2 linked regions of the Homo sapiens genome follow. Each later gene encodes a partner of the first gene's protein in a complex. Each region holds a gene or a part of one and is shown on either strand. Other genes may lie near its edges.

Region 1 (3,822 bases):
AATGAAAATAAAAAAATTAGCCAGGCATGGTGGTGCTTGCCTGCAGTCCCAGCTACTTGGGTGGCTGAGGCAAGAGTATCGCTTAAGCTCAGGAGTTCAAGACTGCAGTGAGCTATGTTTGTGCCACTACATTCCAACATAGGCAGCTGAGCGAGATCCTGTCTCTTAAATCCTGTCTCTTAAAAAAAAAAAAAAGAAAAAAACTCTTTCACCTACACTCCAAATCTAATACAGGCATATGCCACATAACATCTTGGTCAACACTGGACCACATATACAATGGTGGTCACTTAAGATTATAATACTTGCCAGGCGCGGTGGCTCATGCCTGGGAGGCTGGAGCGGGTGAATCACTTGAGGCCAGGGGTTCAAGACCAGCCTGGCCAACATGGCAAAACTCCGTCTCTACTAAAAATGCAAAAAATTAGCTGGGTGTGGTGGCATGCACCTGTAGTCCCACCTACTTGGGAGGCTGAGGCAGGAGAATAGCTTAAACTCGGGAGGCAGAGGTTGCAGTGAGTAGAGATCGTGCCACTACAGTCTAGCCTGGGCAACACAGGGACACTCTGTCACACACACAAAAAAGATTGTAATACTGTATGTTCTAACTGTTCTATATATTTAAAAAATTATAATTTACTGTACCCCTTTTATGTTTAGATACACACATACTCACCATTATAGTTGCCTATAGTGTTCAGTACAGAAACATGCTGAACAAGTTTGCAGCCCAGGAGCAACAGGCTATATTAAACAGCCTAGGTGTATAGTAGACTACACTATCTAGGTTTGCATAAGTATACTCTGTGAAGTTCACACAACAAAATCACCTAATGTTGCATTTCTTAGACCATGTCCCTGTCATTAAGTGAAGCATGTCTGAATTACCAGAAGAGTTTTATTAAAATTTGTCAGCATGACTTTCTTGATTTTAAGAAATGGCCTTGATGATCCTGAAGTTTCTATCGTTTTTGCTTTATGTTTCTCTTTAGTGTGGCAGGGAAAGGCAAGAACAGAGTAAAAAGTTGGCAAGGGAGTCACACATAAAAAATTAATATTAATCTTACGCAACATGAAGGAGACTGTCATTTTTGTAAGGTAAACATTTGGGGATTTACCCCAAAACATGTCATCTTTAAAATACAGTCATATGCATTGCTTAATGACAGGGATATATTCTGAGAAATGCAACATTAGGCAATTTTGTTGTGCAAACATAGCATAGCCTACTAAACCTAGGCTATATGGTATGCTTATTGTTTCTAGGCTACAAACCTGTGGAGCATGTTACTATACTAAATACTGTTGGTAAATGTAACACAATAGTAATTATTTGTGTATCTAAACACAGAAAACATATAGTAAAAATAAAGTATGTGTGGTCCATCACTGACTGAAACATTCTGCAGCACACGACTGTAGTAAGCACGGCTCTTTATATTAGTAGATATCTCAATTTACAATGCCACAAAAAGGTGACATTTGGGAATTCAACAATTTTCTGCATTAGACTTCAGACATCTCCAAGCTAGAATCACTTCATGACTTCACTGCTGAAATACAATAGCTGAAGTTTAAGGATTAAGAATTACGGATAGGCCGGTGCGGTGGCTCACGTCTGTAATCCTAGCACTTTGGGAGGCCGAGATGGGTGGATCACCTGAGGTCAGGAGTTTGAGAGCAGCCTGGCCAATGTGGCGAAACCCCGTCTCTACTAAAAAATACAAAAATTAGCCAGGTGTGGTGGCGCACGCCTGTAATCCCAGCTACTTGGGAGGCTGAGGAAGGAGAATCACTTGAACCTAGGAGGTGGGGGTTGCAGTGAGCCGAGATCACGCCACTGCACTCCAGCCTGCGCAACGGGAGTGAGACTCCATCTCAAAAAAAAAAACAAGAATTACAGATAAAGGCCAGGCACAGTGGCTCATGCTCGTAACCCCAGCACTTTGGGAGGCTGAGGCAGAGGATTGCTTGAGCTCAGGAGTTCAAGATCAGCCTAGGAAACATAGTGAGACCCCCGTCTGTACAAAAAAGGAAAAAATTAGCCGGGTATGTGGCACGTCTGTAGTTAGAGCTACCTGGGGAACTGAGATGGGAGGATCATTTGAGTCCAGAAGGTTAAGGCTGCAGTGAGCTGTGACTGACCCACTGGACTCCAGCAAGGGTGAAAGAACGAGACTCTATCTCAAAAAAAAAAAAAAAAAGAATTACAGATGTAAATCTGATAGCACAACACAATAGTGTTCTTATACACTGTTCCACAGACTGTCTTTAAGACCAAACCCTAGAAGGATAAAAAGATTGATAAAAAGATTTCTTGCAATAATCTAAAAGGGGTGGGTAGAAATGGGTGGCCATCAATAAACCCAATGTTCCTACCCTGAAGGAATGAGAAGTCTTTTCTCAAAGCACTAAATGAGGCAGGTAAGCTTAAAGATGAATATTTTTACAAGCTTTGATTAATGAATTGCTTGGGAATAGGGTCTGGTCATGGTGGCTTACGCATGTAATTCCAGCACTTTGGGAAGCTGATGTGGGTGGACTGCTTGAGTTCAGGGGTTCGAGACTAGCTTGGGTAACACAGCAAAACCCTATCTCTACAAAATACAAAAAAATTAGCAGGACGTGGTGGTATGCGCCTGTAGTCCCAGCTACTCTGGAGGCTGAGATGGGAGAAGTGCCTGAGGCCCTTTTTTTGTCTCAAAAAAGAAAAAGAGAAAGAGTTGTTTGGGATTAGCATCCAAGTATTATAGAGCCTTTGGATACAGGCTACTAAATGAAAATTCTAGCAAGATGGTGAAAATATAAGTCCTAAAATTATTGTTTCGATTTTTTTAAAGACATTAAAGAATACACTGATTTTTATTTTACTTTTTAAAACAGGGTCTCACTCTGTTGCCCCAGGCTGGAGTGCAGTGGTACAATCAGGGCCACTGCAGTCTTGACTTCCCAGGAATGAGGGCCACTGCAGCCTCGACCTCCCAGGCTCAAGCAATCCCCCCACCTTAGCCTCTGGAGTAGCTGGGACTAAAGGCACATGCCACCACACCCAGCTAATTTTTGTAGAGATGGGGTTTCACCATATTGCCCAAGCTGGTCTCAAACTCCTGGGCTCAAGTGATCCACCTGCCTCAGCCTCCCAAAATGTCGGGATAACAGGTGTGAGCCACCATGCCCAGCCTATTTTATTTTGTGTAGAGATAGGGTCTCACTATGTTGCCCAGGCTGGTCTTGAACTTCTGGGCTCAAGTGATCCTCCTGCCTCAGCCTCCCAAAGTGCTGGGATTATAGGTGTGAGCCACTGTGCCTGGCCTGACTTTCTTTCCTTAAAAAAGTCAACTATTTTATTCCATGAGAATAAAATAGAATACAATTCTATTTGATAAAATCCTATTTCATAAAAATTCTATGAATTCTATGATATCAGAAACCATTTTTTGCATTTCTAAGGCCTACTTGCCAGGCCTTAGAAATACAAAAAATGTTTTCTGATCTCACAGAACTTCACATCTGGAGCTAAGAAGAGGAACAGATACTATCATTTATAATTGGTGAGATATACAAGCTATAAGAAGAACTGAAGATAAAGTGTTGTAGGAGAATATAGTGCAGTGAATAACTGATTTTGACTACAGTTTAGGGAAGGCCTCACAAAAGGAGACAAAATTTGTAAATCAATAAAAATGTAAGCAGGAGTTTGTCAGGTAGACTAGAGAGGGGTAGGGATTGGAGAAAGACTTCTTAGGAAGCATGAGATATATGAAAATGACTACTCCAAATACCTTTAAAAAATTGATTTTAAAAAAAGAGGAAAATAAACAC
Region 2 (3,822 bases), on another chromosome or scaffold:
GCTCAGGAGTTGGAGACCAGCCTGGGCAACACAGTGAAACCCCGTCTCTACTAAAATACAAAAGATTAGCTGGGTGTGGCGGCATGTGCCTGTAGTCCCAGCTATTCAGGAGGCTGAGGCAGGAGAATTGCTTGAACCCGGGAGGTGGAGGTTGCAGTGAGCTGAGATCACGCCATTGCACTCCAACCTGGGCAACAGAGCGAGACTCCATCTCAAAAAAAAAAAAGTTCAATCTCACCAAAAAGGAAATGTAAAATGAAACTAATAGATTAGTAACATCTAATACTGGCTAGTATGTGAGGAAAGGGGCCCTCATACAGTTATCCTCTTCCATGTATATGAAGATATGTGTACATGGGTATTCACTGATAAACTGTCTGTAAAGTCAAAAACTAGATATAGGCCAGGCACAGTGCCTCACACCTGTAATCCCAGTGCTCTGGGAGGCCAAGGTGGAAAGACAGCCTGAGCCCAGGAGTCTGAGACCAGTCTGGGCAACACAGTGAGATCTTGTCCCCCCCAAAATTTTTTAAATAGCTGGTTGTGGTGGTACATGCCTGTGGTCCCAGCTACTCAGGAGGCTGAAGTGAGAGGATCACTTGAGCCCAGGAGGTTGAGGCTGCAGTCAGCTGTGATCACGCCACTGCACAAAGCCTGGGTGACAGAGTGAGACCCTTGCTCAAATTAAAAAAAAAAAAAAACTACAAAGTAGATATAACTTAAGTTTCCAAATAATGTATGAATACATAAACTATAATATATCCATACAATGAAATATATTTAAAAGAATGAAGTAGACATACACATACCAAGATGGAACTGTTCACATGTGGAGTAAGTTAAGTGGCAGGCCACATGCATATGACTCCAACATTATGAAGAAAAAAAAAATCCCTCTTATACATACTTAAAAAATTATTATTTCCTTATCTGTATAAAATAGGTCAAAAGGATTTGTACCTTTTTTTTTTTTTTTGAGACAGAGTTTCACTCTTGTTGCTCAACCTGGAGTGCAATGGAGTGATCTCAGCTCACTGCAATCTCTGCTCACTGCAACCTCTGCCTCCCGGGTTCAAGCGATTCTCCTGCCTCAGCCTCCCAAGTAGCTGGGATTACAGGCATGTGCCACCACGCTCAGCTAATTTTTTGTATTTTTAGTAGAAACGGGGTTTCGCCATGTTAGCTAGGCTGATCTCAAACTCCTGACTTCAGGTAATCCGCCCACCTCGGCCTCTCAAAGTGCTTGGATTACAGGCGTGAGCCATCACACCTGGCCGGAGTTGTACCTTTTACAAGGATTTGTACGATTAACAGTGGTTAACGTTATAAGAGTGGGCCAGGTGCAGTGGTTCAGGCCTCTAATACTAGCACTTTGGGAGGCTGAGGCAGGCAGATCATCTGAGGTCTGGAGTTCAAGACCAGCCTGTCCAACATGGTGAAGCCTCTTCTCTACTATAAATACAAAAATTAGCCAGGTGTGGTGGCATGCACCTGTGATCCCAGCTACTTGGGGGGCTGAGGCAGGAGAATTGCTTGAACCCGGAAGCAGAGGTTGCTGTGAGCCAAGACTGCACCATTATACTGCACAGCCTGGGGAACAAGAGTGAAACTCCATCTCAAAAAAAAAAAAAAAAAAAAGAGTGATTGAAAAAGGTGAGAAAACGCTTTATATATCTCAGTATTATGTGAATTTCTTATAAATGTAGTTTTGGGGGCTGGCTGTGGTGGCTCACTCCTGAAATTTCGGCACTTTGGGAGGCCGAGGTGGGCGGATCACCTGAGGTCAGGAGTTCAAGACCAACCTACTTGGTGAAAAGCCGTCTGTACTACAAATACAAAAATTAGCTGAGCATTGTGGCGGGCACCTATAATCTCAGCTACTCGGGAGGCTGAGGCAGGAGCATCGCTTGAACCAGGGAGGCGGACGTTGCAGTGAGCCGAGATTGCACCATTGCACTCCAGCCTGAGCGACATGAGCAAGACTCCATCTCAAATAAATAAATACACAAACAAACAAATAAGTGTAGTTTGGGGGATTTTTTTGAGAAAGAGTCTTTCTCTGTTGCCCAGGCTCGAGTGCAATAGTGCAATCTTGGCTCACTGCAACCTCCGCCTCCCGGGTTCAGGCAATTCTCGTGCCTTAGCCTCCTGAGTAGCTGGGATAGCAGGTGTGCACCACCACGGCCAGTTAATTTTTGTATTTTTGATAGAGACAGGGTTTCGCCATGTTGGCGAGGCTGGTCTCAAACTCCTAGCCTCAAGTGATCCACCCGCATTGGCCTCCCAAAGTGCTGGGACTACAGGCATGAACCACCATGCCCAGCCTATAAATGTAGTTTTAAAAAGTAATTAATGGCCAGCCATGGTGGCTCACGCCTGTAATCCCAGCACTCTGGGAGGCCGAGGTGGGTGGATCACCTGAGATCAGGAGTTTGAGACCAGCCTGGCCAACATGGCAAAACCCTGTCTCTACTAAAAATACAAAAAATTAGCCGGGCATTGCGGCATGTGCCTGTAATCCCAGCTACTCGGGAGCCGAGGCAGGAGAATCGCTTGAACCTGGGAGGCAGAGGTTGCAGTGAGCCAACACTGAGCAATTGCACTCCAGCCTGGGCAACTAGAGCGAAACTCCGTCTAAAAAAAACATATATATATATATACATATATATAATAATAATAATTATTGTTGGCTAGGCACGGTGGCTCACACCTGTAATCCCAGCACTTTGGGACGCTGAGGCAGGTGGATCACCTGAGGTCAGGAGTTCGAGACCAGCCTGGCCAACATGGTGAAACCCTGTCTCTACTAAAAATACAAAAAATTAGCCGGGCATGGTGGCATGCACCTGTAGTCCCAGCTACTTGGGAGGCTGAGGCAGGACAATCGCTTGAACCCTGAGGCAGAGGATGCAGTGACCCGAGTGCACCACTGCACTCCACCCTGGGCGACAGAGAGAGACTCTGGTTCAAACAAAATAATTATTATTGTTTAATGGCTCCTTATTTTCTGAGTCACACTGTGTTCTGAACAAATTAAACCACCAAACAGCTATTCTTAACACTGGACTTCAATCTCTTCTCTTTGAAATAAAATAAAACTTTAATCATTAAAGTTAAATGATAACTCTTCAGCCTGGTCTGATGGTAATGGGTTATCAGAACTTTTTTTTTTTTTTTTTTTTTTTTGAGACAGAGTCTCACCCTGTCACACAGGCTGAAGTGCAGTGGCACAATCTCTGCTCACTGCAGCCTCCGCCTCCTGGGTTCAAAAGATTCTCATGCCTCAGCCTCCTGAGTAGCTGGGATTACAGGTGTGTGCCACCACATCCAGCTAATATTTCTATTTTTTTTTTAGTAGAGACAGGGTTTCACCATGTTGGCCACGCTGGTCTCAAACTCCTGACCTCAGGTGATCCTCCCAACTCGGCCTCCCAAAGTGCTGGGATTACAGGCATGAGCCAACAAGCTCAGCCTGTTATCAGAACTTATTAACGTTAGTGTCACTAAAGTTTGTATACAACCCCCCACTGCTAAATTTGACTAGCTTCAAAATAAATAAAAATTTACAAAATAAATAACTCTTTAAAAATCTCTTTAAAAAGGAACATTGTTTCTCCTGCATTGACTCTGATATAAAGAAGGCAAAAACTTACATTGTTCTGGCCAAAGATCTGGTGAGGCACGGTCAAGTTTTTCAAAACTTAGCAAAGATGCTTCCAGATCTGTCCCTAGAACAAAACATCCAGATGAACCAAGAAGACAGGAAACACATTAATGTATATGATACTTCAATCTCAAAGGACATAAACTGGAACACTCACC

Evidence for each region.
Region 2: RBL1 (region 1) and LIN52 share a complex: the UniProt entries of both Homo sapiens proteins name them as parts of the DREAM complex.

The regions. Positions count from the first base shown.
Region 1 is NC_000020.11:37,089,479-37,093,300, forward strand, and holds part of RBL1 (retinoblastoma-like protein 1), read right to left. Parts: intron 1-3,822. UniProt on the Homo sapiens protein: Key regulator of entry into cell division. Directly involved in heterochromatin formation by maintaining overall chromatin structure and, in particular, that of constitutive heterochromatin by stabilizing histone methylation.
Region 2 is NC_000014.9:74,091,138-74,094,959, reverse strand, and holds part of LIN52 (protein lin-52 homolog), read right to left. Parts: intron 3,729-3,822; coding exon 3,654-3,728; intron 1-3,653.